4 linked regions of the Homo sapiens genome follow. The protein of the gene in region 4 interacts with the protein of the main gene of each other region in a pairwise test. Each region holds a gene or a part of one and is shown on either strand. Other genes may lie near its edges. The genes, in order: EXOC6, RNLS, LOXL4 and MAST1.

Region 1 (6,548 bases), on a different chromosome or scaffold from region 4:
TTCATAAAGACGTCCTAAGCCTCCAGAAGCGGATACCCACGAGCACCTTTCCGGTCTCAAGGACCGAATTCATCCTTCCCTGCACATCCTTCCCTCCCTCCCCCGAGTTTGCCCGACGACTCTTGTCAATCTACATTGTTGCGTTTTGGGCTTTGTGCGTCCCATTCAAGGGTTCCAAATGCCTCAGGACTCACTCGTTCTTGTCCCTACAGTGCAACCTGGGGTGTGTGTGGAGGGGTGCAGGGTGTTTATATTATTGGTAAGAGTAAAGAGGTCCCACAGTGGTCTCCTCCAGGCAGTGCAAAGGCAGTATCTCTCTGAATCCCGGGACGTCTCAGCCAAAGCAGGGAAGACACCCCAAGTACGCTGGAAGGCTGGGTAAGGCGCGAAGGGCAGCCCCATTCCAGTCTTCAAAGAGAGCTAGCTGTTCACCGCTCCTCTCCTCCAGATTTCACCGTGCCTGAAGAACTACCATGCTTTTCATGTAATATTTTTAAAAACATTAAATACTTTGGATTAAGAGATGATCGAGAGAACAAGTGCGCATATGTATATATATGTGTGTGTGTGTGTGTGTGTATGTATATATACTGTTTTGGTGCCACTCCCATTCCAGTAACTAGGAAATAATATGCCTTTTCTCCAGGAAGCACTTGTTTTAAATCAGTAAGCTCTGAATAGACAAAATAGTAATGCATTTTCAACAACTTGCTCAATATTTTTAATATTTCATCACAAAATCCAGAGATGTACATATAATTCTTTACACTTATTTTACAGAATCAGGCATAGTTTCTTACAGGCCTAAATCCTGAAAAGGCAAAGGGAAGATTCAGCATAAATACAACAAAGGGAGAATAAAGACTGGATTTATATTGCCATTTGGACCACGGAAACATACACAAAGGAAAATGTACATTTGTTTTAGGTTTTCCAGAGTTCATTTGGTTTGGCTTGTTTCCACAATGAGGATAAAGTACTGAAATCTGCTATTTGAAGAAAGTAACCTGACCCCTGTGGTAACTTCTGTGTGCAGGAACCATCTACCCTCGCACAAGCTGCACCTGAAGTGGTTAGCCCCATTTAGTTCCTGTCCTCTCTTTTAACTGGAACCAAACCAAACCAAACAAATCCAGAATGGGGTCACCTACAAGCAATATAGTTAGAAATATTAACCCTGATGAACAGAAACAACACTGCATCTTTAGAAAATCCAAAACCTTTTGTTCATATTCAGAACGATTAAATTAAACCACCCAAGTAGAACAAATAATTCACATTCTTACTGAGTTAAATCAAGTTTGATTTCAGGCAGCTTTTAAGATTTGTCTATTTCCCCTTCAGAATTAGCAGAATTAGAAATTTTGGTCTGCTTAAATCACATTGAGGTGAAAATAAAAGCTAAAAGTCAGAAAATGGTAGTGAAATACTACCATATCAGACATGATTGAATTCCAAAGCCATATACTGATCAAAAAACAGATTATCATTCAAGTCTAAATAGAAAAAAATACTTATGAGTAGAGGCATATGTTTTTCAAATGTATTTGTAATCAATTTCATGTATAATTTGTGACAATTTATGTATTACACTTTTGCATTTTCCCCTAAAAGTGAAAAAATGGTCATTTTTTTCCATATATAAAATAGTATTCGATTATTTAAAAATCCATACAAATGATATTTATTACTATTTCTTGTTTAAGCCCTCATGTATCTTCTCTATTGTATTTTTGGATTCTGTAAACAAATTACTGTATCATGACCAATACTTGCTCAAGATCAACATTGAATCATGGATTTGGTGTCACTGAGTGCAAGCCATGTGAGGTCTACATGTGCTGGGACATACCATTCACCAAACTTCTCAGCTGTTTCACGACTGTCTCTATCAACTTCTGTTTGTCTCGATCATTCTTCCTGAACTGAGCAAATATATTGTTCTTTTTGCTAGTATCCTTCATCCTAGAAACATATGTGAATGAAGAAGCTTGGTAAAAGAAAATTAAAAGCTAAGCTGTCACAAGTAAAATATCTTGGCATGCTCTGAATTATCCCACACTAATCCTATGCTTGAAAAATATAGTTCAAAGAAAGTAGATACTAAATAAACATACAGATATAGTAACCATGCAAAAAATTAGAAGCTTTATTTTACATTCTATGTTAAGTGGTATTTTTGCATTAGTATGTACATCTAAAATATGCTAGGTTTACTACTATCATACTATTTTCTAATATTATTCCACAAAGTATGCTAAAATACATACCCTGTATAGACTCTGCTAATCATATTCATAGCAAGATAAGGTGAAAGGAAAATAACATTAGAAAATGTAAAATAGCGATGTTTTTGCCTCAGTTGCATTTCATGGCATTGTAAAATAAATTTACATTTATTTTAAACACTTCCTCTTGTCCTTTCAAATCAAATACACCACAAATATTTTGAAATATAGGAAAATAATAACAATTTTAATTTAAAATTGAAAATTTTAATAGTGATACTTTTTTATTTTTCTTATCCAGCAGCCCCCAGAATCACAGCAGATTCAGAGAGTCTCCCAATAGTGACATTTTAAATGAAATATGATTGAGTAAAGAAAAAGTCTGTCACATAATGAGAGGGAAAAGTTAACACCTAAATTTATGTTTAGTTGGACAAGATGCATCAGTAAATCCTATTACCTCAGTTTTTACTGTATTTTTTTTTTCAAATCACATATTTCTCTACCTGCAAAGAATCCAAGTCCATAATGCTAAGATTTAGGTAACACTGGTGGCAAACATTCCAATTCCTGGTCACATTTGACAAAATACCTTCTTTCCTGAGTTATAGACTTTTTTTTTTAAAGAAAGCTCCAATTGTCACATCCCCAGTAAACATATTTCTAAGGTCAATTAAGCTTGCAATTCAGGATACAAAAGGAAAGATGTTTTGTTCACATCAATATAAACAGCAGTTGCTTATGAAACTACACCAACTCTGAAGGGCAAGAAAGAAAAGCTTATTTTTTGGTCATTAAACTAGAGTGAGCTTTTAAGCTCCATCTAGACTTTTCTTTTTTGACAGAAATCTCTAGTTCTTCAGTTTATCACTGAATCAAAAGGTGCTAAAATGTTATACAAAAAAGTTTCAGAATATACTCACTTCTCCAAAAGAGTAAGGGCTGTGTTTGGATTCACCCGAAGGTACTTAGAAGCTGGCTGCCCATAATCAGCTAGGTAAGTAGACCAATCCCAAACCATAAACAGGTCAAGGAGCTGCGAAAGATGGGGGAAATGTTAAATCAACTTTTGATTATTTACCCAGTTAATACTTAAATTATATGCTATCCTTGGTCCATTTTAATATGGCTTGCTTCTTAGATGGAACAGAATACGGAAATTCATTTTTAAAACTTCATTAACTGTACTTTACAATCAAAATAGATCTTTTTACTTTGAAATTACTAAAAATGCCAGGGGTTGTTTTCTAGTAAAATACTTCATGTTTTCAAATAATTGTAAAATAATGAAAACAATGTTAATATAATATATATTAACCCTTGTACTGATGTATAGAAATTTTATCTTTATGCATTAGTCAGTACCCAGATTTAATTAATAAAGGTTGGTGCTACTAACCTGTATGAAGAATTTTAAAGAACTTAAATTGAACCTTTTTTTCTTAGAGGTAAGTATGTTTACCTTTCAAGGACGCTGTTTGCACCTAAGACTTTTTCCAAAGTAATTTAAACCAAAAGCTCAGATAATCTCAATTAAGTGCATTAAACAACCTCTGCTAGATTCTCTCTGGTGATAGATCCTCTGTAGTATTATGAAATGAGGGCTTCAGGATTCAGCCTGTTAACTCTAGGCTACCATTTTGTATAAACAAACAACAACAAAAAAGAAACCCTCTTGTTTCCCGTGGTGTCTTAAAATTGACTATTTACTTTATAATCTCCAGTTAGAATCATTGTCAAATATGGAAGTAATCTTTTAAAAGCAATGCCATGCCTAAACCTAAGCACCAAACTCTTTATCCAACTTTAAAACCCTAATCCCCTTTAAGCCATTTAAAACCAACTTCCTATCCCCATTTGAATTGTTTCAGAAAGCTAAATGCTTTACTTACTACCTTCCTTTAGTTTTTATATTCTTTCTTTTTGTTTTAACTCACTTTATAAGTAAGGGGTCTTACTGGTTTTGCTTTCAAATGGAGGAAACATTTGCATTTACTCATGGGATACAAGAGCCGACCACTGACTCTGAGAGGGATAAAACTCTGGGGTGATTAAAACCTCATAAAGAAAGGTCACCAGAAACTAGCTTTTCTTGATGAAGGTAAAGAACTTGCTTGACTATTTCCCCATCCAATTTACAGGTATTAATAGAGATTTTCTTGCAACAGGCAGAAAATTCTATAATGAAAATATTAACTATGGAAAGCCACTCTATTTTCTTTCGGACAAGATACCATTCTGGGCCATACCAACAGTTGAAACACTAGGATAGAAACTATACTGAGACAATGTTAAAGAATATACTGTCTGAAAAAGAAAAGGGAACTTATTTAAAGTTCTGTGTAATTTTTAACTGTTGTTTGGCCACATTTTTCCCTCCTTTCACAAAGAGGAAAAGTTACTTTCATACACTCAGATGGTAAGAGTGTAAATTAGTATAACGTCTCCGGAATGTGATTCTGCAATGTGTTTAAGAACCTTATAAAAGTGGCCATTCCCTTTGATTCAGCAATCCTACTTCTTGGAATGCAACTTCGAGAAACAGAAAAAAATTTATGCACAAAGATATTAATCTCAAAAATGTTATTTGTGTTATCAAAAACTGAAAATAGCCTAAATCTCAATATTAAGAGACTGGTTAAGTAGTGAGGTCTATCTGTATGATGACTATCATGTGGTTATTAAAATTAATGTTTACAAAGAATTTTAAATAACTTGGGATAATGTTTATGATAAATGTTGCTACTTAAGTTACATAAAAACCCATCCAAAAAGACTGGAAGAAAATTTGCAAAAACGTTAAGGATGCCGGTTATAAGCTGGGCATGGTGGTGTGTTCCTGTAGTCCCAGCTACTCTGGAGACTGAGGCGGGAGGATCACTTGAGCCCAGGAGTTAAGAGTCCACCCTGGGCAACATAATGAGACTTCACCTCTAAAATAGTAATTTTTAAAAAAGAATGATTGTCATTTATGTGGTGGGATTAAGGTTAACTGTTATTTTCTTTATTTTTGTAATACTCTACAATGGATATGTGTTAATACTATAGTTATAAATAAGGTTTATATATTTATATATTAAAATAAATTTCAATAATGAACACCCCTCACAGAGTTGTCAACAGAAGCCTCATTTTCAAGGATTCTTCTTTCAGGTATATGTGTGTATTTGCACAACTGTGCATGTGCAATGCACAGTGTCAGCAGAAAGCAACCTCTTAAGGCTCTTTTTCTCTAGGCTGATTTACCCCCAAGTGGGAAAGGAGGAGCCGACTTAATGAATGAAAAACCCGCACCAACTCCAACTGTGAATACAGAATTGATTCTTTTACAGCACAAGACCAGACTGTCCTGGATAAAGAAACACTATGCTTACAATGTTCACATATGGTCAGATACTCATATGCAAATCTCTTATGTGCAAATCCGCAGAAATTACAGGAACCACAAAATTAAACCTACCTGCCCATATGTAGACAAATCTATATGCTTTCATATTGACATTAATCTTTGTATAAATATTTATAGAAATACATATTGTACACAGTTAATTTACAGGTATCTGTAGAAATCTGCACGAATTTGCAAATTAATGGTTAAGGAATTAATTGCCAAAGCAGACAAAAAAGCCAATGATCTACATAAGATTCATTTATTTATTCAACATATATTGACTCCCCACCTATCACGTGCTAGATACTGTGCTAGGTACCAGAGATACAGCATTGGAACAAGACAAAATCTCTTTCCTCAAGGAGCTTACATTGTAAGATAGGAATAAAGCAGTAATCTTTTGATGTTAACATGGAAGAAATTATAAAGAAAAGCTATTCACACAGAATCCTAGTAATTTAAACTACAGTAACACATGAGGAAGCTACTATCACTTTAATATAGAATAAAATAGAAACCATTAACTTATATAGAAGCTGGTGACTGCCTGCTCATTCCGCTCAGTCTATGAATCCAATGACTGAAGATCCAATGGCTGAGACATTTCAGTGTTTGTGTCCCAAAGACTACACATGGACATGGGCAGAGAGCAAAGATGGAGCCAGCAAGCATGTTGATCTCATATTCTCATTTATCATTTTCATGTGTGTAAGGATTTTTCAAATGCATTGTACTGCTGGAACAAGTAAATAGAAACAAACTTCAAAACTGGGCAGGCAAGCTCATAAAGTGTGTCTAGCACAGTCTAACCACTCAGTAGATATTCAGGAAATAACTGATTAAATGATGATGCCAGACCATTATTCCAAGTTTCCTTGGGAGCTTTTTTCTTAGGCTTTATAAGTACAGGCTACTTTAGCTTATGCTGA
Region 2 (8,077 bases), on a different chromosome or scaffold from region 4:
TGGGAGATTGTTTTGGTTTTTGCTAATACAAACATTGATGCATGTCTATTGTTGACATGCTTTTGGAAGCATATCTTTATTTAGGATCAATTCCTCACAGAAGAATAGCTATGTCAAACGATATTTGCATTTTTAACTTAGCTAGGTTGTGCTGTGTATTAATCTTAAAGAACATCTCACCAATAGTGATGAGAATGTTTCTTTCCCCACATTTGGGTATAATGGAAATTTTTAATTTTTGCCAGTGTAATAGGTTAAAAATTGGATCTCTTCGTGGTTTTAATTTGCATTTCTTTAATTACAAATGAGTTTATGCATTGTTTTTGTTTTATTAGCCAGCTCTTTGCAGTTTTCTTCTGTGAATGTCTTATTCATAACCTTTGCCCATTTTCTATTAGGATTTTCATTTGTTCCTTATATATTTTATGAGCGTTTTGAAAATGGACCTTTTAAAAAAGAAAATAGAATTTTTCTTGGATAATTGATGATTATTTTTAAAGGAGAATGAAGCTTCTTGATAAATCATAATTCAGTTAAGTACCCAAGTTGAGATAACTGAGAAAGGATATAGGCTAAGAATTTTTTTATAAGCCATTTCCAGCATAATTACTGTTTTGATCTTTATCATCAAATATTACTTATTGAGAACCCCAAGAATCCTTGACACTGGGCATCAGAGAGGTCAGTAAGATTGAATAAACAACATGAGAACATAATAAATACCATTCTGGCTTAGACCATTTCTCCATTCGAGATTCAGTATATAGATGGTATGTTAGACTACTCCAGAGAAACAGAACCAATAGGGTATGTGTGTGTATGTATGTGTGCATGCATGTGTATATGTGAGTATGGATAAAGAGAGAGATTTATTATAAGGAATTGGCTCACATGATTATGTTGGTTGGTAAGTCCCAAGATCTGCAGGGTGATCCAGCAAGGTAGACACCCAGGAAAGCTGGTGGTATACTTCTAGTCCAAAGGCTGGCAGGCTCAAGACTCAGGAAGAGCCAATGTTTCAGTTCTACTCTGAAGGCTGGAAAAAAGCTGATGAGCCAGTTCAAAGGCTTTCAGGCAGGAAGAATTCTCCTTTATGTGAAGGAGGATCAATGCGTTTGTCCTATGTAGGCCTTCAACTGATTGGATGAGGCCTACCCACATTAGGGAGGGCAATCTGCATTACTTGATCTACTGATAATAAATGTTAATCTCTTCTAAAAACGTGCTCATAGAAACACCCAGAATAGTGTTTGACCAAATATGTAGGCATCCTATGGCCAAGTCAAGTTGACACATAAAATTGACCATCACAGATGGTGACACTATTGGACGTTTTGTAGAATGTTACTATCAGCTTCATATAGTGTGGCCATATCACTTTAAAAAATCTCATTTCCACCATGATTTTCCCCTGACCCAGGTTGGATGAGTATACCTATTGAAATCATCAGGTACTTACTAACTGATATGCGTGCATGCATGCATGTGCAGGAGCTTAGAAAATGATATCCCAAAATGGAGCCCTCAGAAGTAGCTCTCTCTGACCTTCTCCTGCCCTCCTATCTCTGGCCTTGCATTCATCCCTGAGGCTAGCCCTAGAAAATAGAATCTCTTTTCCCAAGGCAGGTCGTAGAAATAAGAACCCCTTTTCCCCCCAAACCAGCCATAAAACCTAAAACTATCACTCTAGCTTTCCCCTGCCTTCCTTTGTAAAAACTGGCCATAAAGAAATTATCTGACCTACCGTGTTTGATTGTAGCTCACAACAGTTCCAGAGAGGGTCATGACCTATAACCATAAAGAAAGAATGCTGCACAGAGAGGACAAGAAGAATCTAGACAGACAGGCCTTGGTGGGTTTTACCAGTTTGTTAGCCATAGATATAACCCTTTGTCCAATCATATTGCTGCAGAGCTGTCCATACTTTGTTGAATCTAAGCATAAAAATGGACTCCTGTATCTTTGGGTCTTCAGTCTGAAGGTTTCAGTGTCATGCAAAACTATGATTAAATAAATTTGTATGCTTTTTCTCATATTAGTATGCCTTTTGTCAGTTGATTTTTACTGAAATTTCACCCCTACACATGCATATATACATACATACACATATCCTTTTGTTCAATAAACATTCATTGAATACTTACCATAATGCCAAACATTGTTCTAGGTACTAATGATACAAGAACCAATGTCCTTGCCTTCATGGAGTTGATGTCCTGGCAGAGAAACATCTTTGAATACATTGCATCTATCTCCTTATTTTGTTATGTGTTTGGGGGAATACATACGTTTTAACTTCCAATTTTGCTTTTTAAGCTTTTCAGAGAAGAGATTATTTTTAATTCCTTGTACCTCACTCAGAAACTAATAGTACCTCCTACATAGTAGGTAGAGTGATATAAATGTTAAAAATTTATTTTATATCAAGTTCATGGTCTATTTAACTTGAGTTTATATAAATTTTTCTTTGTTTATTTTAATGCTATTTAATGTTATTCTTGTAATACTTCGAGATTCTCCTCTACCCCGATCTATTATCTATAGGATTTGTTGGACCCTATCTATAATATTTTTAATTTTATAATTATATCCCTTTTAAACATTCTTTAAGTCCCTTTAACCTTTCTATTCTATAAATGGTCCACAAAAACATTTTGGTTTTTCCACACTATAAGCTAAGACAGTCCCTGAAATCAGAATGACCTGGATTCCAGTTAATGTCCTACCATCCCTTTCTGTTCATGTAATATTAGGAAAGTTTAAAATCTGTACCTCAGTTCTTTCATTGAAAAAAATGAGCGTAATGAAATGCAAAAATGAGGGTACTTACTACAGAATATTGTAATGGAAGTTCTTGCTACAAAGTGTTGTGAGGAATGAAAGATATAATGCACTCAAATTCAAGCAAGTAGTAAGCCAGTCACATAGTAATCTCTTGAAAAATGTTAGTTTAAAAAATATTGTACTTGAATGAAGCTGACCTTCATATATTCCTTACTTTAAGAAATCAAATTGCCAACTATTTTCAAAAATACTCTATATTTTGGAATCTAGTTGAGTTTAAAACCCCACAATCTGATGGACCAACCAGTGGTCATTCAGATTGGGACCAGACTCCCAGGGCAATTATTTGTCTGGGATATGCCTAATCAGGCATGCTTTAGAATAGGTTCAAACCTTTAAAGCCAATATTTAACTAGACCAATTTCCCAGAACAAATAGTAAAAGGTAAAGGAAATAGATGCTTTCTTCTTGACCTTATGTTCTATTTTAATTTATTGTCCGATGTGTTCACATTAACCTCATTGCAGAGAAAGCTGTATTTATTGGCATCAATTTCACTGACTGCCTGCCTTCTCCATTAATACAATCTTCTTGAGTGAGTGAAACATGATTTTCTTTTGTTCTTTTTTTATACTAGTTGTCATTATGCTGGGGTGAGAATTGACAATAGCAAAAGTGATTCTAGCTATCAGTTATTAAGTGCTGACTATTTATCTAATACTACCTGAGGTACTTTACGTATGTAGTTTCTAATTCTCACAGTAAATTTTCAAGGGAGTTAATCATCATCCCTATTTGTTAATGCGAAGAATGAGACTCAGGTACTTTGTCTAAGGTGGCTTGGCTAGTTGGTAACAGAACTGAAGTGCCTTTGCAATTAATCATGTTGTTTTTTTCTATTAAGTCTCTCATGGAGGGCAATGAGAGGTGCTCATACTCTCCAATTTAACATCTATTTTGTAGAGCCTTCTCTTTCCTTATTGATTATTTTCCTATAGTATGAAGATTGTACCCATCCCACCTGGTGCTACGTGTCAGTAGACACATGGTTCAATAGAACAACCTCATAGTTCCCTGTGCCCCTAGTTTCCCTCTTTCATCAGTTAATTCCTGACATAGGGGGAAGTGGATATTGAAGAGTAATACCACCTTAGTTCTTTATGCAACCTGGGAAATTGGTCACCTGATGGTTCCTGCCTATGACATGGAAAATGATGGGCCAGGTCCTTTTGCTTTTGAATAAGGTCCCATGTTACTAAATTATTCAAAAAAGATGAATTTAGCTTCCAGGACACAGAGTGAGCAGCTTTTATTTAGCTTGTCCTACCAATAGGGAGGGCTGTTGCTGCATTTATTTGTTTTTATTTTATCATCTACCTAAAAAGGACATTGGCTAGCGATCCAGAAAGTCAACATTTGCAAAGTAACCTGTCAAAATTGACAAGATCAATTTATTAGAAAAAAATGGTTTAGGTGGCAGATGCCATTAGCTAGGATGGCTTCTGTATTGTAATATTTACTTTTATTATTCTCTCTCTTTTTACTTTTGTGCCTATTTTCTTTCTAAAATTGATAGAGGGGAAGTGAGTCTGGGTGGTTCTGTCTCAAAATTTCTCCCAGCAGGTGATCCTGGCACTCATCCGTAACGATGTCCTTTTTAGAGAAGCTAGAGGATGGCATGAAAACCAGGTTAAGCATTCTTCTATTTACTTCAAGCTGTGTAGTCAGTTAGAGATGGTTCACATCACTTCAGGTCCCACCTGAGCAGTTCTGACTGCTGCTCACTAAAACCTATTTGTGGGAAATCATAGGAGAAACATAAACTTGGATTTTCTCCTTAAAATGGAGGAAGGCCAGGGATAAAATTGAATAAATATATAACAGAAACACATTTGCCTTTGTAAAATGTTTAAACCTTCTTAGACTTCTGATATCTTTATAGCTATCTGAAGATCATTTTATTCTAATTAAATATTATGTGCTGGGGAAACAAAAGTCAATAAGAGACATGATCCTGGCCTCTGTTAATGTAGAGTATAGTGGGAAGAAAAGACATTAAACTAATTATACATACAAAGAAAAGATGCATGATAAATGTTAAGAAGAAAGAGTGAGAGCATTATGAGAGAACTTACAATAAAAGGACCTAGCCCAGTAGGTTTTAGAGGAGTGATGGGGGAGATGTGTTAGGGAAAGCATCCCTGAGGAACTGATATTTTCATGGGTACCTGAAAGGTGGGCAAGAGGGAATTAGGCTGAGAGCTGAATGATGAGAGTTCAATGCAGTGGACACATCAAATTGGAACTGTTTTGAAGCAGTAGGAGGAGGTTAGTGCATTCAAGGAATAAAAGATCATTATGACTGGACGGTAGTGAGTGAGGGAGAAAATGGTAAAAGATGATGCTCAAGACTAAGGCAGGGCCAGGTTATACAGGGCTTTGTAAGCAATGTTAAAGATTTTATACTCTAAGTGCGATGGGAAGCCATTGAAGGGTTTTATGCAAGAGAGGGACATGGTCAAATTTACTAAGCTCAGACATAACTCTTGAGACTATTTATTTATCCATTTTAAAATTGGGTTTTTCAGAGCTTATAGATTTAAACACATAGTCTTTGTGAAAGTTATTAATTACTTTCACAAGGAAATGCCACTTTCCCAAAAACTTTGCTCCAAGCAGTTGGAAAGGAAGCCTTTCTGGTTAATAAGAGAGGCTATACCATTTCTCCTACCTCTTGATAAATGCTGCTTTTTGGGTGGTTTTGCCAGTGGTGTTTGATTTGGGCGTGTCCACCTACCCCAGTGGTTCTCATACTTTAGCGCGCATCATGACAAGACTAAGGGAGCTTGTTAAACATGGATTGCGAGGCTCAATTCCCAGAGTTTCTTATTCAGTATGGTCGGGTTGGGGCCCAGGAATGTGCATTTTCTAGTACATAGGTGCTGCTGGTCTGGGGTTCATACTTAGAGAACCACTGACATATATATATATACACACACACACACACATATACATATACACCTTGGTGTATATATATGTGTATATATATATATATATATACACACACATATATATATAGTATATATATATAATATGTGTGTGTGTGTGTGTGTGTATATATATATATATATATATATATATATATATATACTTTGCAGAACACCTTGTGGCCATTGGGATACATTTTCAAGGCGTTCATCTGGGGCATGAAGAATTTTCTAGGACTGTGAACTTAAGTCCCCTTAAACACACACTCATACCACCAACAATAACAGCATATTGTTCTCTTCAAAGGAATATTATGAGAAAACGTAGAATCAGTTAACTTAGCTGAGGTCTGGGACAGGGCCATGGACTAAGTGAGGCAAGTAGGGTGAGGCATCCTAAATAAATAAAAACAGAGTGAAGCAGAGCTGCCCTTGTTGGAATAAAGGAGATGGTGGATATGTGTTGAAAGTGCAAATTATTTGCACCTTCCCCAAGCAGGGGCCTTAGAAAAGCCCTCAGGCAAGATGGAGTACTGTTTACAAGCCCCTTGCTCTAATCTTTGAACAGAATGATGCACACTGTCTTGAACAGAGATTGATCTCTTGGGCTAGCTAGAACTATGTTTCTTCTAACATTTACATTTGATTTTTTAAAAACTGGAGTGCTTACTAGGGTGTAGCATTATTTAAGGGTCAATGAAAGAGATGAAAGTGTATGAGATCTGAAGACCCGACATGAAGGAGCCTTGAGTATTATTACATAGATAAGATACAACTAAAGCATGCAGATATTTTGAATCAATGTCAAAATTAGTACTAAAGGCAGTGATGGTTGAAGAATATCATAGAGAGGAAGGATCACACTGAGCTGGAGTGGCTACAGAAAGGAAGCTTTGGGATGAACTTTAGCTGGATTTTTAGTGACTAGGAACGTGAGATTTCCCAGGTAAAGATGAACAGGATCTTTCAGTGTGCTTTTTTCCTCCCTCATTCCATCTTCATTTCTTTCTTTTTCTATACACAAAGCTGAATAAAAGTAGATTTGCTTGTAAATCAAAATTTTTTGAAAACTGGAAGGTGAGTACTAGTTTACTAAGGAGACTTAATGACCCAATTGTACTTTCTTTCAGTTTATGGTTCATAATTCATTCTTTTTATTTGTTATGTTGCCTAGGCTGGAGGGTAGTGGTGCGATTTCAGCTCACTGCAACCTCTGCCTCCCGAGTTCAAGCGATTCTCGTGTCTTAGCCTGCTTAGTAGCTGGGATTGCAGGCATGCACTACCATACCCAGCTAGTTTTTGTATTTTTAGTAGAGATGGGGTTTCACCATGTTGGCCAGGCTGGTCTCAAACTCCTGACCTCAAGTGATCCACCCACTTCAGCCTCCCAAAGTGCTGGGATTACAGGTGTGAGCCACCGTGCCTGGCCTCATAATTCATTATTTTAAATAAATACTTAACTAATAAATTCTATGCTATGTATACTATATGCTATACATAGAAATAAAACAGGTATAATTTGTAGCTCATGGGCCTTACAGATTAAAAGGGAAGACAATATTAAAGAAATAATTATTAAAATATCCTTGTGTTAAGTGCTAAGAAGGAAAATGTTATGGGAGGGTACTCTAGAGTATGTTTCTAAATTCTGATTCTTCTTAATGAAGACAATTGATCTATTGATGAGAACTTGCATTTCCCTTACAGAGAACCTTTTTCAGGTCCTTTAATGGGAAATATTAATTCCTTTAATAGAGAATATTGCTCTTCTTATTTCATTGCTAACACACATGTTTACTGAAGTGTATACTTGTTCTGCAAAAATGATGAGCTTTAGAGTCAGATGGTTATAGTTTTAAATCATGGCATGCTATTTCTCAATCTATTTCCTTGTCTGTGAGATAAATTAGTATAATGTGTACCAAGCAGCTGGCATATAGTAGCTGCTTAATGAAAAGTAGCTATAGTTATTATTTTTATTTTTATCACTAATTGTAGGAGTAGTTTTTGATTCAGAGCAGGCACTGATAGGGAAGTCCAAGGATGCCAGGTAGGGATGAATTCCCACTAAATTAGAAAGAAAGTAAAGGAAGAGAGCTGGAGGACAGTAGAAGACAGTCTTGGCCATTTTGTTCACTTGAATGGATTCAGTTTGTGACTACTCACATCCCCTTTATTCATATATGCAATTCTGATAATGGGGACATGATTTTGCTTTTGGAACAGGTGCAGAAGTCTACTTCAGACATCGTGTGACACAGATCAACCTAAGAGATGACAAATGGGAAGTATCCAAACAAACAGGC
Region 3 (8,077 bases), on a different chromosome or scaffold from region 4:
GGAGAGCTGCAGAGGTGAGAATGGGAAGGCAGCCCCTGCACAGCCTCAGGGAGTGGAGAGGGGAGCATCTAGGCTCTGCAGTGTGGGTGGAGGGAAAAGGGGCAAATCTAGAGAAGGCTGCAAAGAGGAGTACCAAGGACTTGCAGTTGAGATCGGACGTGGCCTCCATTTCCTTCTTTGTACAGAGAGGAGGTGGGACCAATCTAGACCAACGGTTCTATCGTCGCTGTCACAGTAGCTGTTAATAATAGTTCATTGTTGGCCGATGTAGTGGCTCACGCTGGTAATCCCGTCACTTTGGGAGGCCAAGGCGGGTGGATCACCTGAGGTCAGGAGTTCAAGAACTGATGTGGTGAAACCCTGTCTCTACTAAAAATACAGATAAATTAGCTGGGCATGTTGGCGCATGCCTGTAATCCCAGCTACTTGGGAGGCTAAGGCAAGATAATCACTTGAACCCTGGAGGCGGAGGTTGCAGTGAGTCGAGTTTGTGCCATTGCACTCCAGCCTGGGTGACAAGAGCAAAAATCTGTCTCAAAAATAATAATAATAATAATAATAATAATAATAATAATAATAATAATAGTTCATTGTTACTGAAGGCTTGCTCTTCTAAGGATTTAATGTTTCTTCACTTAATCTTTACAAAAATCCTATGAGGTAGTTACTATTATTATCCCCACTTTACAGAGGGAGACACTGAGGCAGGGAGAAACTAAATCGCTGGCCCAAGATCACTTCCAAATGAACTGGTGGAGGCAGGATTCGAACCCCAGCAGTCTGACCGCCCAGCCTGTGCTCTCAAGCACTGTGCTGCCACCTCCCATCCATGCAACCACAGATATGAATGAGTGCCACCTACACACCTGACACTATTTTGGGAACTGGGGACACAACACATCCCCACTCCCATGGAGCTTCATTCCCAGAACTTGTTTAGTGCACTTTTAGGAGCCCACTCCACCCAGCCCTGCTGGCCAAGGCCGTTGAGAGGGAGTAGGGCAGATGCCATCCATGGAAGTGAGAGTGGCAGGGGCCTGTGAGAGCCTCCCCACTCAAGCGGATGAGCTGCATGATTCCCCAAGAGGAGCCATGGCCGTGGAAGAGGCAGGTCTCATCAGAACGAGCTTTCTTAGCCCATCTTCTCCATCCCCTGTTCCAGGTCGGCCTTAGCTTCCATCGGCAGCAGAGCCTTGGGGTGGAGGAGCTTCAGCTTCGGTGGCTCCAGAGGTCTCTGACAGCTCTAACCAGCTGAGACTCTCTCCTCTATGCCCTTCTCCACCTGCTGGTCCCGGGACCAAGGCTGCTGTGTGAGGGGGAGAGGACCTGCCCCCAGCCTCATCCCCTCTCTAAGGACCCAAAGAACGTCTGATTACAGCCTCCTGGAGACAGGGGCCCTCTCTGTTTACCGCCTGAAACCCTCCCCTGGCCCCTCGCTTCCTACAGGATGAAGGCAAACCCTCTGTGTAGTACACATGGCCCTTGATCATTGGCCCCAGCTCGTCCCTCCATCTCTTTCCCCTCCAAACCCCCACACTGTGGTCTGGGGGTAAGAGAAGGGCACTTCCTGCTCTTGCACAAACTCACCTCTTTCCCTCTTTCCTAATCCTCTTCTCTGTATCTCGAATGCCCCTTTTCTCACCCAGGAGAATCTTATTTGCCCAATAAGGCTCAGGTTAAGTGTCCCTTCTTTGAAAGGCTTCCCTAATTCTTCTTGCTTGAGCTTCATGAAGGTAGGGAGGGTGTTCGATGTCTTAATTTCTGTGTCCCAGCACCTGGCCTGAAGCAAGTATTCCAAAAATGTGTATTGAATCTACATGAATCATACGCCTAGATGGATGTGAGGCTATCACAGGGTATCCAAGCTGCAGGAGGGATCCAGATGATATGTGGTTCCATCTCCTCACTTTAGAAATAAAGAGTCAGGGCCGGGCACAGTGGCTCACACCTGTAATCCCAGCACTTTGGGAGGCCAAGGCGGATGGATCACGAGGTCAGGAGTTCAAGACCAGTGTGGCCAAGATGGTGAAACCCCGTCTCTACTACAGATACAAAAAAATTAGCTGGGCGTGGTGGTGGGCGCCTGTAATCCCAGCTACTCAGGAGGATGAGGCAGAGAATTGCTTAAACCTGGGAGGCGGAGGTTGCAGTGAGCTGAGATTGCAGCACTGCAGTCCAGCCTGGGCGACAGAGAGAGACTCTGTCTCGAAAAAAAAAAAAAAAAGAAAGAAAGAAAGAAAAAAGAAAGAAAGAGTCAGGACCTAGAGAGTTGAAGAGACTTGCCCAAGCCATGCAGCCAATGAGTGGTGGAGTCCTTGATGCCCATCTAATAGCCCTTTCTGCTCCAGCCTTCCATGTGCCTTCTAGGTGAAGGCGGCACTTCACACATTTGATTAGGGTGCTAGGAACATCAGAAGGTGGTGGCAGTGTCCCTGGGGTAGATAGTCTTGACCTGAGGGCACCCTGGGGGCATCCCCGTGACTCAAATGGTGGACCACCTCGTCTGCCTACACATAAGATTTTAGGTGTATAAGAGCTGCTGTTTATTGTGTACTCACCAATGCTAGGACTTTGCTAAGCACTTTCCATACGGTGTTTTATTTAACACTCAACAACACCGTGAGATGGAGATTACTATCCCCATTTTACAGATGAGGAGACTGAGACTCAGTGAGGTTAAGTTTAAACTTCCTCAAGGTCATGGCGAATGTGGTGGATTTGAACCAAATCAGCTAACCTGGCCCAGACTCAATTAATGCCACTGTGTGTGTGTGTGCGCGTGCACACACACACACATTTGAGGGGGGTTTTCTTTCCTTTGTCTTGCCAGGAGCTGCCAAATTGCTGCAGAGGTCTGAGATCTGGGTAGAGGTGGTGATCACTGTCATGTTTACTCATTCCTCAGGTATCTTGGCCTCAGCTGTCCTTGAAGTCACCATGGCGTGGTCCCCACCAGCCACCCTCTTTCTGTTCCTGCTGCTGCTAGGCCAGCCCCCTCCCAGCAGGCCACAGTCACTGGGCACCACTAAGCTCCGGCTGGTGGGCCCAGAGAGCAAGCCAGAGGAGGGCCGCCTGGAGGTGCTGCACCAGGGCCAGTGGGGCACCGTGTGTGATGACAACTTTGCTATCCAGGAGGCCACAGTGGCTTGCCGCCAGCTGGGCTTCGAAGCTGCCTTGACCTGGGCCCACAGTGCCAAGTACGGCCAAGGGGAGGGTGAGTGACTGGTGCCACCTAGTGGGATGGCAAGGAGATGGTAACAGTCTTCTTGGGCTGGGCTCACTGACACCCACCCATCCTTTAATACCCTGCTCATGTGACCTCCTCCACACGGCATTTCCTGAGTGCCTCAGCTGCACATGGCCCCTACTCCCACCCTCCCATTCTCTCTTGTAATAAGGCCACCGCCGTCACCACCACTAAACTCTAAGTTCCTTGAACATAGCAATTGGCACACAGTGGGTGCTTAGAGAATGTTGAATGAAAAAATGGGCAAACAGGTAGGTCTGATTCCTAGAGCTACCCGGCATTTTCCAAAAACAGATTCTCTAAGAGCCAGCACCCAAAGGAGGTAGCAGGCAGGGTTATAAATACTTATTCCCCAGGAGACCCAAACTTCCTCCTCCCTGCCACTTTCTCCCAGGGTTTGGAAGAGGTGACTTGGTAAGTGTGGGGTCCTATGCAGGAGGCAGAGCCTGTGACCTGCCTCTCTGTGCCATCTTTGAGCATCACCTCCACTCCACAGGACCCATCTGGCTGGACAATGTGCGCTGTGTGGGCACAGAGAGCTCCTTGGACCAGTGCGGGTCTAATGGCTGGGGAGTCAGTGACTGCAGTCACTCAGAAGACGTAGGGGTGATATGCCACCCCCGGCGCCATCGTGGCTACCTTTCTGAAACTGTCTCCAATGCCCTTGGGCCCCAGGTGAGGAGGCTGTTCAGGCTCTGGTCTGAGCCAAGGGCTGGGTCAGAGAACAGAGAGCCTCCCAGAAGACGGGCCTAGAGGATAAGCGAGGGGAAAGGGTGCAGTCTGCACTGAGCATCGTCCCCAGGCCGCCGACTCCTGAGTGTGCCCTGCAGCAGGTGCATAAATAGAGGGCCCCAGCCTGAGGCAAGGCAGGCCAGAGGACCAGAGCTGACCCCACTGGGAATCGCAGAAGCTGCTCCCGTAAGGGAGACAGCATTGGGTAAGGGGCTCCCTCATCCATGAGGCCTGGCCACAATTGCTGCCTCTTCCCAGCACAAACAACCCTGAGCTAAAAACAGCCCAAGCCAAACAACAGGAGCGGGCAGGGCAGGGCTCTGCTGCCAGGCAGCCTCCAGCCTCAGGACAGCTGGCCATGGCCACTGAATGCAGCGTGTTGTGATGGGGACTCTGTACTGGTCTAAGTCATCCCAGGGCTAGGGTTGGGGGTTCTTGTGGGCCATAGGATCCTGCTGTGGTCTCAAGCAGCTGGTCTATGCCCATCTCAGCTCTCTCAGGGTGGTACAGAGAAGGCCCTTCCATGCCCAGCAAAAGCCTCCCAAACTCCAAGGGCTCCCATCCTGATCCCAGCGGGGGCCAGATCTGCCTAGTTCTCTCCAATTTGACAAATTCGAGGAACTGAGGGAAAGGGCTTAGACAAGCTGAGGTTCTGCCTTGCACTTACTCTGTGGCCTTTGATAATGCCTCCCCTTCTCTGGGCCTCAGTTTCCTGGCCTGTTCAATGACCGGGCTGGGTGGGATGGTCTCGAAAAGCTCCAAGCCCCAGCCTTTCTGCATGAAGATCTGCAGCAGGCTCCACTGGAGGAGCAGGAGCCCCGAGGCCCACAGGTGACTGTGCACCCCGCAGGGCCGGCGGCTGGAGGAGGTGCGGCTCAAGCCCATCCTTGCCAGTGCCAAGCAGCATAGCCCAGTGACCGAGGGAGCCGTGGAGGTGAAGTATGAGGGCCACTGGCGGCAGGTGTGTGACCAGGGCTGGACCATGAACAACAGCAGGGTGGTGTGCGGGATGCTGGGCTTCCCCAGCGAGGTGCCTGTCGACAGCCACTACTACAGGTAGGAGGGCGGCTGGCGTAGGCCCCACAGGAGGCAGGGTTGTGGGGCAGGGACTGAGTGTGTGTTCATGTGCGTGCATGTGATGTAGGGTGTGTGCATGAGTCTGAGTGTGGACTCATGTGAGGGGCAAGTAAGTATGCACACAGGCGAGTGTGTGATGTGTGTGGCATGTGGGACCTCGCAGAGTTCAGTGAGTACTGACTGGCAGTGGTGTTGTCTGTGGCAGGACATCCAGCAGGTGTTGGGATTGGGGGAGAGAAAACAGGCCCTACTGAGGAATGTGCCCAGATTTCTTGCTTCACGGGTGCCTCAGAATAATAAACAGGAAAGTGAATAAGGAGGACCTTCAGGATCCTGGGAAATACCTAGAAACAGTCAGAAAACAAACACTGCACTCTCGAATTATGTAAACAGAATTAACTAGGTACAGAACGCCCCCCCACCCCCCGCCCCCGGTGAAAACAGTTGAACATAAAACCGCGTGTCCTTGGTTAAAACACTAGACTTTCCTGCAGATACTTGCAGTGACACCCACGTGTAGAGTTTAGACAAACTGTTCTGGCCTCAGCTCAGCCAGTGACTGGCGTTAGGGCTTTGGGGAGGGCCTCTGAGCCTCCATCCTCAATTCCACTGCGAATATCCCAACGCTTCCCTCCTGAATTTCCTCAGCTCTGATCAAGCCAGGCTGTGACTGGGTTGTGTGTAAGTGAGGCGTGGGGTGGGGCACCTGGAGAGAGGAGACATAAAAATATTCTGTCAGAAACAAGGCGGAACTGTCACAACTGATTGCATCAACCAGTAAACGACAGCCACAGTCATGGTTCTGCCAGATCCGTGTCAGGGAGGACTTGTGTGTTTCCCATCAAGTGAGAAGTCTCCCGTAGTACGTCTGAGTCATCTGCCACCCCAATCAGTTTGATCCTGCTTCCCTAAAGGGTTAGAAGGCCCTTGTTGCAGTGACTTAGAGGAACCCCGTTCTGAGGAAACAGGGGTGCTGGTCAGCCTCTGGCTCCATCCTTGGGGATCCTGGGATGCAGCCTGACTCCCCCTGCCTGGTAATTGCACACCTGGGTCTCGCTGACTTGCCTGCCACCCATGAGGAGGGCAGGCCTGATGGTAGCCTGGGTGTCTCTGGGCGGGCCGCCCCCACCAGCAAGGCCTTCACCTCCCACCTGTCCCCAGAGGGCCCCTTCTCTTGGGCCCTCCCTAAATGCTCCCCTTCCTCTGGACTTCGGAGAGGGCAAGCCTGATCCACCTGCCCCCACTCTAGGACTGGCCGAGGGACCTTGCTTGCCTTCCTTGTAAAATGGTTATTTGTGAGGTGGCCACCCCGTCAGGGCTGCTGTGAAGCTCAGCATTGAAATCAGATTAGTGAATAAGTTTACAAAATGTAAAGTCCTGTGCAAACTTAAGGACAACTATGAGGAACCAGGTGGCAGGGGGTGGGACTTCCACACCCCTTCCACCTCCTATCTGTTTTCTCCCATAACAGGAAAGTCTGGGATCTGAAGATGAGGGACCCTAAGTCTAGGTGAGGAGCAGCACCCTAGAGGGAGGAGGCAAAGGGGTGTGGCATGAAGGGCCTCTATCCCATCCCCTACCCTCCCCTTCCCTCCTTTCTACCTTGGCCTCCCTTAGTCCTGAAGCTCTTCCCTCAGCCCTTCCTCCACCCTCAGTCTCCCTTGTCCTCTAGGCTGAAGAGCCTGACGAATAAGAACTCCTTCTGGATCCACCAGGTCACCTGCCTGGGGACAGAGCCCCACATGGCCAACTGCCAGGTGCAGGTGGCTCCAGCCCGGGGCAAGCTGCGGCCAGCCTGCCCAGGTGGCATGCACGCTGTGGTCAGCTGTGTGGCAGGGCCTCACTTCCGCCCACCGAAGACAAAGCCACAACGCAAAGGGTCCTGGGCAGAGGTGAGCCCTGGGCATCCTGCACTCACACCACAGCTTGGAGGCACGGGCGGGACACTGCCTGGTGGGGGGTGCGGGGAGGTCCAGGACACGCAGGAGAGAGGAACCAGACTGGGAGGAGGAGAGTGAATCACAGAACTGTAGAACCTTGGAATGTATTTAAAAGGGATCATTTATAGCCCTACCATAAATGGAAAGCTGACATCACCCGCCTTGAATAGAAGGTGACCGTAAAAACAGTAATTAAATCCTAACTACATTCCACTGAGGGCTGGTACTGATCCTGAGCCTGCTCCTGAGCCTGCTCCTTTGTTTTAAAGAGGAGATGAGCAAGTGCTTATGAGGTGGTAGAGACGCCTCAGTGCCAAACTGAGATGCCCTCATGAGGTGGTACAGATGCCGTGAGGTGGTACAGATGCCTCAGCGCCACACTGAGATGGCCTCGTGAGGTGGTACAGACACCTTAGTGCCACACTGAGATGGCCTCGTGAGGTGGTACAGATACCTTAGTGCCACACTGAGATAGCCTCGTGAGGTGGTACAGACACCTTAGTGCCACACTGAGATGGCCTTGTGAGGTGGTACAGATGCCTTAGCGCCACACTTGAGACGGCATCCTTGATGAGGCTGTGGGGGTGATTGGTCATTGAAGAAATGGAGATCAAGAAAAACAGCTTATTCAGGGTGACAGCTATGGGAAGTCAGAAGCAGGACTGGAACTCCCCATCCTTGGCTCTGGCCACCGCCATGGAACTTGAAGGAGCCCCGTTGGGGATCCCGCTGTGGGGGCTCAGCCCCTGCTGGTGCCTCCTCCTCAGCCGTCCCTGAAGCAGGTTTCTCCCAGCAGGAGCCGAGGGTGCGCCTGCGCTCCGGGGCCCAGGTGGGCGAGGGCCGGGTGGAAGTGCTCATGAACCGCCAGTGGGGCACGGTCTGTGACCACAGGTGGAACCTCATCTCTGCCAGTGTCGTGTGTCGTCAGCTGGGCTTTGGCTCTGCTCGGGAGGCCCTCTTTGGGGCCCGGCTGGGCCAAGGTGAGTGAGACAGCCTGGGAGGGGTTAGAAGGCCTGGATATGCCACTGGTCCATGTCTTGAAGGCCCTGGGGTGACAGGGCCAGGACAGAAAGTTATCCCC
Region 4 (7,798 bases):
TCTTTCCAAGGGTCTCTTAGGGTTTCTGGGGTGTCCTTAAATGAATTTTCTATGGGCCTTTGGTGAAACTGGGGGAGGCAGAGAGGTTTCTCTGATGTTTTCTGGAGAAACGTTTCTGGGAGTTTGGGCCTGTCTCTTTTTCTTTGAACTCTATTCATTCTAAAAATGGTGTCTAAACACCTGCTATGTTCTTAGGAGCTGGGCGTATGGGGTCAATGACGTCCTGTCTCTACCCTCTGAGTCGAATAGGGCAGGCAGGCCAGAGAATGGGGATCAGTGCAAAGGCTGATGAAGGCTGTGTTGTGAGAGTCAAAGGAGACTGTGAAGACAGACAGCTCCCTTGGGAAAGTGGGGGAACCGCCTATTGACCATGGAATTTAGCTGAGGGCAATAGAGAGCCAGGACAAGGCTCTGGGATAGGGTCTCACATGTTTATCCGCAAGCGGGGAGGACTGAGCGAGGGGACTGCTGGGAGGAAGAAGGAAGGGAGGAGTCCAATAAATGGGGTGTGTGTGTGTCCTTGTAACTGTGCAAAGTGTGCTGGTGTGTGTGTGTGATTGTCACTGTGTGAGGGATTACGTGCCTATGCAATGGCACGAGTCTGCGAATGTGAACGTGTGAACATGTGTCTGTAGGATTGTAAGTGTCTGTGAATATGTGAGAGGAGCAAGTCAGGTATGTCTCCAGGTGAGCGTGCAATCTGTGTGTGGGTGTAAGCGTGTGTGAGTGTGTGGCTGTGAGATAGTAAACACAGAGTCACAGTGTTTACTGTCTCTCTCTCTCTCTCTCTTTTTTTTTTCTTTTCTTGAGACAGAGTCTCGCTCTGTTGCCCAGGCTGGAGTGCAATGGCGGGATCTCGGCTCACTGCAATTTCCGCCTTCTGGGTTCAAGCGATTCTCCTGCCTCAGCTTCCCAAGTAGCTGGGATTACAGGCGCCTGCCACCACGCCCGGCTAATTTTTGTATTTTTAGTAGAGATGGGGTTTCACCAGGTTGGTCATGCTGGTCTCGAACTTCTGACCTCAGGTGATCCACCCGCCTCGGCCTCCCAAAATGCTAGGATTACAGGCATGAGCCACCGCGCCCGTCCAGTTTACTGTCTCACAGCCACACGCTTACACATGCACATGCTAATGTGTGTTGTGCACTCACATGAGCACGCGCCGATGTGTGTCCCTGTGTGTGTGCATCTGCGTGCGAGTGTGAATGAGTGTGTCGCTGTGTGCAAGTTTCAATGTGTGGTAGTGAGCGTGGGTGTCTGGAACGTGCATCTGTGTGAATGTGGAAGTGTGGAGTATGTTTGGGTGAGTCTGTGTGTCCGAGTGTGAGTACTGAGTGGAAGCACATGTGTCTATAGGTGAGTGCATGTCTGGTCTTGCACGCGTGATTGTGCATTAGTGTGTGAGAGTGTGATATTTGGGTCCATGGATGGGATAGTCAATACGTGTGGGTGTCTGTGTTGAGGAGTCATGTGTGAGTGTGTGTCTTCGTGTGTGTGAAGTGTAAATGTGTGCACTGCCAGTATGTGAGCCTGACCTGATAGTCACACCAACATTAATGGATTTGGCTGCAACAGTGACTGTGTCTGTGTGCACGAGAGCATAAGGACACAATATTCTATGTCAGAACATGTTGGGGGGTGGGACGGGTCTTTTTTCTCTGAGAAGATCCAAGGGTCTCCCTCAGAGCTTTCTCATGGAGAGTGTTCACTTGGGGGAAATTTCTAGAATCTCTCTGGAAAGGCTTCACTGGGTGGGGGCTTTTCCAGTTCTCGGTGTCCACTCTGAATGATAAGAGAGGGGACCGTGGGGAGGAGAGTGGAGACGGATCCTCCCTCCAATTCCCGGTGCCTGCCTGGAAGAGTCCCTCTTTATCCCCTTGATTCTGAGGGCCTTGAGGAATCTTAGAGTGCAGATATATTCCCCCAACCCCCACCCTGGCCCTGGCCAGTGGCTTCACCCACACCCTGAGGAGTTGGGGGACCGCTGGGGCCTTGTGGCCTCTGAGCACCTTGGCTGGGTTCCAGGGCGGACGGACGCCGGTGGTCTCTGGCCTCGCTCCCTTCATCTGGCTATGGCACCAACACGCCCAGTTCCACCGTCTCGGTGAGTGTGGAAAGTAGGTGGGTGGGCCGGTGGGTAAGGAATTCAGGGGCCCTCCAGCCTGAAGACCCACACCCAGGCCAGCAGTCCAGGCTGGGCTTGATGACAGTTTAGGGCCAGGCTCAGTGACTCAAGCCTGTAATCCCAGTACTTTGGGAGGCCAAGACAGAAGGATTGCTTGAGCCTAGGAGTTCAAGACCAGTCTGGGCAACATAGGGAGACCCTTGTCCCTACAAAAAATTAAAAATTATCTGGGCGTGGTGGTGCACACCTGTGGTCCCCACTATTTGGGAGGCTGAGACGGGAGGATCGCTGGAGTCTGGGAGGTATAGGCTACAGTTGAGCTGAGATCGCACTGCAGCATTCCAGTCTGGATGACAGAGTGAGACCCTGTCTCAAAAGAAAAAAGCAAAAAAAGACAGTTTGGGTTTCCCCATTCTTCAAAGGTGTTCACTTGTCCATCTATTAAAGAGTTATGGGTCCGCCCCACTCAGAGCCCAATGCTCTGCCCTCAACACATTTCTGGGAGGGTCCTTCCTACTCATTTCTGACTCACTCATTTACAGCTGGTGACATAAGGCTCTGTGAGTTAAGCCATTTACTCTGATATCAGCAGCTGGGCTGGGCCAGGCCACAGCTTTCACCCAGAGCCCACTTGCTCACCCCTTGGAACACCCAAAGTCCCTTCATCTGCTCCCTTTTCTATCCATGCCCATAGTTCCCTTATCCAGCCATTGGCATGATGTTCAGCAGACATTTGTCATGAGATTGTCATGTGGTAGGCGGGTTCTGCAAGCTGGGCCAGAGTGTAAATATTCACGCAGCCCTCATGGGGGAAGACAAGCCAGTAAGAAGGCATTCACAAAATAGAATGGTCAGAACTTTGATGCAAGTAGCACAAGGTGAGGTGATAGGGGAGAGGCATGTGACTCAGATTGGGGGGTTGTCAAGGAAGGCTTCCTGGAGGAGGTGACATTGAAACCAAGACAACAGACCAGCAGGAGTTTGGCAGATGGAAGAGAAGGGAGAAGAGTGTTCCAGGAAGGGGAAGAGCATGTGCAAACCTCTAGAGGCCACAGAACTTGCAGCATTTGAAAAGTTGAAAGTAGCTTTGTGGGGCTGAAAATTTGGGATGCGGGGGAGGAATAGAGATGATGCAGGCAGTGACCTTGATCAGGCTGGAACCTTGTCAGCCAGGGCAGCAAGGGAGATTTTATTCTAAATCCAGTGGGGAAGCCATGGAATGGTTTTATTTCTTTATATTAAATTGTACTAAAATTTCAGTTTGAACCATTTGAAATTGTGATTATGTAGGCTATAGATAATGCACACTAATTAAAAAAATAAAAGAGATGGATGGGGTGGGGAATTTTAACCAGAGGAGTGAGCAATGTGATGTTTAAAAATATCATTCTGGCCGGGCGCGGTGGCTCATGCCTATAATCCTAGCATTTTGGGAGGCTGAAGCGGGTGGATCATTTGAGGTCAGGAGTTCGAGACCAGCCTGGCCAACATGGTGAAACCCTGTCTCTAGTAAAAATACAAAAATGAGCCAGGCGTGGTCATGGATGCCTGTAATCCCAGCTACTCAGGAGGCTGAGGCAGGGAGAATTGCTTGAACCTGAGAACTGGAGGTTGCAGTGAGCCAAGACTGCACCACTGCACTCCAGCCTGGGTGAAAGCTATATGACCAGGCATGGTGGCTCACACCTGTATTCCCAACACTACGGGAGGTTGAGGTGGGAGGATTGCTTGAGCCCAGGAGTTTGAGACCAACCTGAGCAACGTGATGAAACCCTGTTTCTACAAAAAAAAAAAAAAAAAAAAAAATTAGCCAGGTGTGATGGCTTGTGCCTGAAGTCCCAGCTACTCAGGAGGCTGAGATGGAAAGATTGCTCGAGCCCAGGAGGTGGGGGTTGCAGTGAGTGGAGGTCGAGCCACTGCACTCCAGCCTGGGGGAGAGAGAAACACCCTGTCTCGAAATAAAAAAAAATAAAATAAAGCAAGAGGAGAGCCAGGCATAGTGGCTCATGCCTGTGACCCAGCAATTTTTTTTTTTTTTTTTTTTTGAGATGGAGTCTCACTCTGTCGCCCAGGCCTGGAGTGCAATGGCACCGTGCCGGCTCACTGCAACCTCCATCTCCTGGGTTCAAGCAATTCTCCTGCCTCAGCCTCCCGAGTAGCTGGGATTACAGGTGCCCACCACCATGCCTGGCTAATTTTTTTATATTTTTAGTAGAGACGGGGTTTCACCCTGTTGGCCAGGCTGGTCTAGAACTCCTGACCTCAGTTTTTCTGCCCGCCTCAGCCTCCCAAAGTGCTGGGATTACAGGCGTGAGCCACCGAGCCCTGCCCTCAGTCCCAGAACTTTGAGAGGCCAAAGTGGGAGTATTGCTTGAAGCCAGGAGTTGGAAGCCAGCCTGGGCAACATAGAGAGACCCTGTCTCTGCAAAAAAGAATTAGCCAAGCATGGTGTAGTCCCAGCTACACAGAAGGCAGAGGGGGGAAGATTACTTTAGCCCAGGAGTTCAAGGCTTCCGTGAGCCATGATTGTACTACATCCCTCTAGCCTGGGTGACACAAGGAGACCGTGTCTCTCTCTCTTTTTAACTTTAAATAATTTTAATAAATAGAGACACAGTTTCACTATGTTGCCCAGGCTGGTCTCAAACTCCTGGGCTCAAATGATCCTCCCGCCTTCGCCTCCCAAAGTGCTGAGATTACAGGTGTGAGTCACCATATTCAGTGGAGACCCTTCTCTAAAATAATAATGATAATAAAGCAAGAGGAAACAAGATAGAGTAGGGATAGGGAATAATGGGTGTGTATTCAGAGGAGGTCTTCCCGAGGGGTGACATTGAAGCAAAAATTTGAAGGATGAGAAGGAGGGATCCATAGTAGATGTGTTCCAAGCAGAAAGAATAGCTAATGCAAAGGCCCTGAGGAAGGAGCTTGCCTGGCTTGTCCAAGGACCATCAAGGAGGCCACTAGGCTGGGTGCGGTGGCTTGTGCCTGTAATCTCAGCACTTTGGGAGGCAGAGGCAGGTGGATCACCTGATGTCAGGAGTTCAAGACCAGCCTGGCCAACATGGTAAAACACTGTCTCTACTAAAAATACAAAAAATTAGCCAGGCGTGGTGACAGGCACCTGTAATCCCAGCTACTTAGGAGGCTGAGTCAGGAGAATCGCTTGAACGCGGGAGGCGGAGGTTGCAGTGAGCTGAGATCACACTCCAAACTAGGCAACAAGAACGAAACTCCATCTCAAAAAAAAAAAAAAAAAAAAAAAAGAAGGCCACTGTAGCTGGAGCAGAGGAAGTAAGCAGGAGAGTGAGAAAAATCCACGGCAGGGACCCAGGGCAGGATGAGGCAGGACCTTGTATAACTGGGGAAGGACTTGGGTGTTCACCCTGAGTAAGGTGGGAGCCACCAAGGGTTCTGAACAGAGGAGGCTCATGACTTGACCCAAGCTTTAACAGACTCACTGTCTCCACCCCTGTCTGTCCCTGTCCACCTGTCTGTGGCCAAGAGTCCCAGCCAAGATCCTAGGATCCAAGGATCGTAAATCAGGTCCTGATCCTGGCCTTGCCCAGTGACCCCATCGGCTTTGGGAGTCCCAGCTCAGGGTCCTGAGCTGTTGGGGGGCCCATGGTGGCTCTGACCCCGGCCCTGCCCCTGTCCCCAGTCCTCCTGCTCCTCCCAGGAGCGCCTTCACCAGCTGCCCTACCAGCCCACGGTGGACGAGCTCCACTTCCTCTCCAAACACTTCGGGAGCACCGAGAGCATCACAGACGAGGATGGTGGCCGTCGCTCCCCAGCCGTGCGGCCCCGCTCACGGAGCCTCAGGTGGGCAGGCATCCCTCCTCCTTCGTACCAAGCTAGTGGTCTTAGGACTTGTGCTTAGAGAGACCCCTGTCCCCGCGAATAAAAGGGTTACATCTTGGGGCGGGGGCTCTCTGCGGGCTTGGAGGCAGAGGACTCGACAAAATGGGCTTCTCTCCCCGCAGCCCCGGGCGCTCCCCCTCCTCCTACGACAACGAGATCGTGATGATGAATCACGTCTACAAGGAGAGGTTCCCGAAGGTGAGGTGGGACCCGAGGCGGTCACGGGGTGACCAGGCGGCCTGCACTCTCGCTCGCCTTATCCCCGCGCGCCCCCTGGCGGCCTCGGTGCGCAGCGCAGGCTCCTGGCGGCCGCAGCCTTCGGGCACAGCCCCGCGCCCCTCCTCCGTCCCTCCCGCAGGCCACTGCGCAGATGGAGGAGAAGCTGCGCGACTTTACCCGCGCCTACGAACCCGACAGCGTTCTGCCTCTGGCCGATGGCGTGCTCAGCTTCATCCACCACCAGATCATCGAGCTGGCCCGGGACTGCCTGACCAAGTCCCGTGACGGCCTCATCACCACGGTCTACTTCTATGAATTGCAGGAGAACCTGGAGAAGCTCCTTCAAGACGTGAGTGCACGCGGAGGCCGGGCTGATCTCAGGCTCAGCACCGCCAGATTGTGCCCAATGCACCCCTTTCTTCACCCCACATACATTCAGGGAGCTCCTACCACGTTCCAGGCACTGGCGTGGAGCTGAGGACTCAGGGGTGGAAGTGGTCCCTTCCCTAGGTCTGACCGACTGAAGAGGCAGGAATTTCACCTCGCTCATTTCCCTTAGGTCTTTACTCAAATGTCACCTTTTCAGGTGGCTTCTTAGGCGGTCCCCAGTCATTTAAAATATTAAACTCGGCCGGGCTCGGTGGCTCAGGCCTGTAATCCCAGCACTTTGGGAGGCCGAGGGGGGCGGATCACGAGGTCAAGAGATCGAGACCATCCTGGCTAACACGGTGACACCCCGTCTCTACTAAAAACACACACACACACAAAATTAGCCGGGCGTGGTGGCGGACGCCTGTAGTCCCAGCTACTCGGGAGGCTGAGGCAGGAGAATGGCGTAAACCCGGGAGGCGGAGCTTGCAGTGAGCCGAGATTGCGCCGCTGTACTCCAGCCTGGGCGACAGAGCGAGACTCCGTCTCAAAAAATAATAATAGTAAATAAAATAAAATAAAATAAAATATTAAACTTAGCCGGGTGCGGTGGCTCAGGCCTGTAATCCCAGCACTCTGGGAGGCTGAGGCAAGTGGATCACCTGAGGTCAGGAGTTCGAGACCAGCCTGGCCAACATGGCGAAACCCCGTCTCTACTAAAAATACAAAAATTAGCTGGGCGTGGTGGTGGGCGCCTGTAATCCCAACTACTTGGGAGGCAGAGGCGGGAGAATCGCTTGAACCTGGGAGTCGGAGGTTGCGGTGAGCCGAGATCACACCATTGCACTCCAGTCTGAGCAACAAGAGTGAAACTCTGTCTCAAAAATAAATAAATAAATGAAATAAAATAAAATATTAAACTCTACTCACATTTATCACCCACTTTCTCCTCAGTTTCTCCTTGACACTCAGCACCATCCATCATACTGTGTATTTTTGCTTATTTTATTTCATGTCTATCCTTCTCCAATGTCAGCCCCATAGTTGGTGAGGGTGGGGGGGTGGAGTTGTCTGTTCTGTCCACTGCTGTGTCCCTGCTGTTTGGAACAATACCCAGCACACAGTAGGTACTCAATAAATGTTGGGTAAATTGATGCTTGAATGTCCCTTTGCAGTGGCATGCACCTGTAGTCCCAGCTAGCTACTTAGGAGGCTGAGATGGGA

The links.
Region 1: the proteins of MAST1 (region 4) and EXOC6 interact in a two-hybrid assay, tested with the Homo sapiens proteins (one study listed by BioGRID and IntAct).
Region 2: the proteins of MAST1 (region 4) and RNLS interact in a two-hybrid assay, tested with the Homo sapiens proteins (one study listed by BioGRID and IntAct).
Region 3: the proteins of MAST1 (region 4) and LOXL4 interact in a two-hybrid assay, tested with the Homo sapiens proteins (one study listed by BioGRID and IntAct).

The regions. Positions count from the first base shown.
Region 1 is NC_000010.11:93,053,640-93,060,187, reverse strand, and holds the end of EXOC6 (exocyst complex component 6), read right to left. Parts: intron 3,265-6,548; coding exon 3,152-3,264; intron 1,966-3,151; coding exon 1,833-1,965; 3' UTR 698-1,832; downstream 1-697. UniProt on the Homo sapiens protein: Component of the exocyst complex involved in the docking of exocytic vesicles with fusion sites on the plasma membrane.
Region 2 is NC_000010.11:88,572,982-88,581,058, reverse strand, and holds part of RNLS (renalase isoform 1 precursor), read left to right. Parts: intron 1-7,997; coding exon 7,998-8,077. UniProt on the Homo sapiens protein: Catalyzes the oxidation of the less abundant 1,2-dihydro-beta-NAD(P) and 1,6-dihydro-beta-NAD(P) to form beta-NAD(P)(+). The enzyme hormone is secreted by the kidney, and circulates in blood and modulates cardiac function and systemic blood pressure.
Region 3 is NC_000010.11:98,257,880-98,265,956, reverse strand, and holds part of LOXL4 (lysyl oxidase homolog 4 precursor), read left to right. Parts: intron 1-580; exon of another isoform or gene 581-1,230; intron 1,231-2,905; 5' UTR 2,906-2,937; coding exon 2,938-3,214; intron 3,215-3,743; coding exon 3,744-3,922; intron 3,923-4,829; coding exon 4,830-5,035; intron 5,036-6,527; coding exon 6,528-6,566; intron 6,567-6,728; coding exon 6,729-6,948; intron 6,949-7,789; coding exon of another isoform or gene 7,790-7,792; coding exon 7,793-7,976; intron 7,977-8,077. UniProt on the Homo sapiens protein: Catalyzes the oxidative deamination of lysine and hydroxylysine residues in collagen and elastin, resulting in the formation of covalent cross-linkages, and the stabilization of collagen and elastin fibers.
Region 4 is NC_000019.10:12,841,504-12,849,301, forward strand, and holds part of MAST1 (microtubule-associated serine/threonine-protein kinase 1), read left to right. Parts: intron 1-2,025; coding exon 2,026-2,104; intron 2,105-5,786; coding exon 5,787-5,947; intron 5,948-6,108; coding exon 6,109-6,184; intron 6,185-6,344; coding exon 6,345-6,554; intron 6,555-7,798. UniProt on the Homo sapiens protein: Microtubule-associated protein essential for correct brain development. Appears to link the dystrophin/utrophin network with microtubule filaments via the syntrophins. Phosphorylation of DMD or UTRN may modulate their affinities for associated proteins.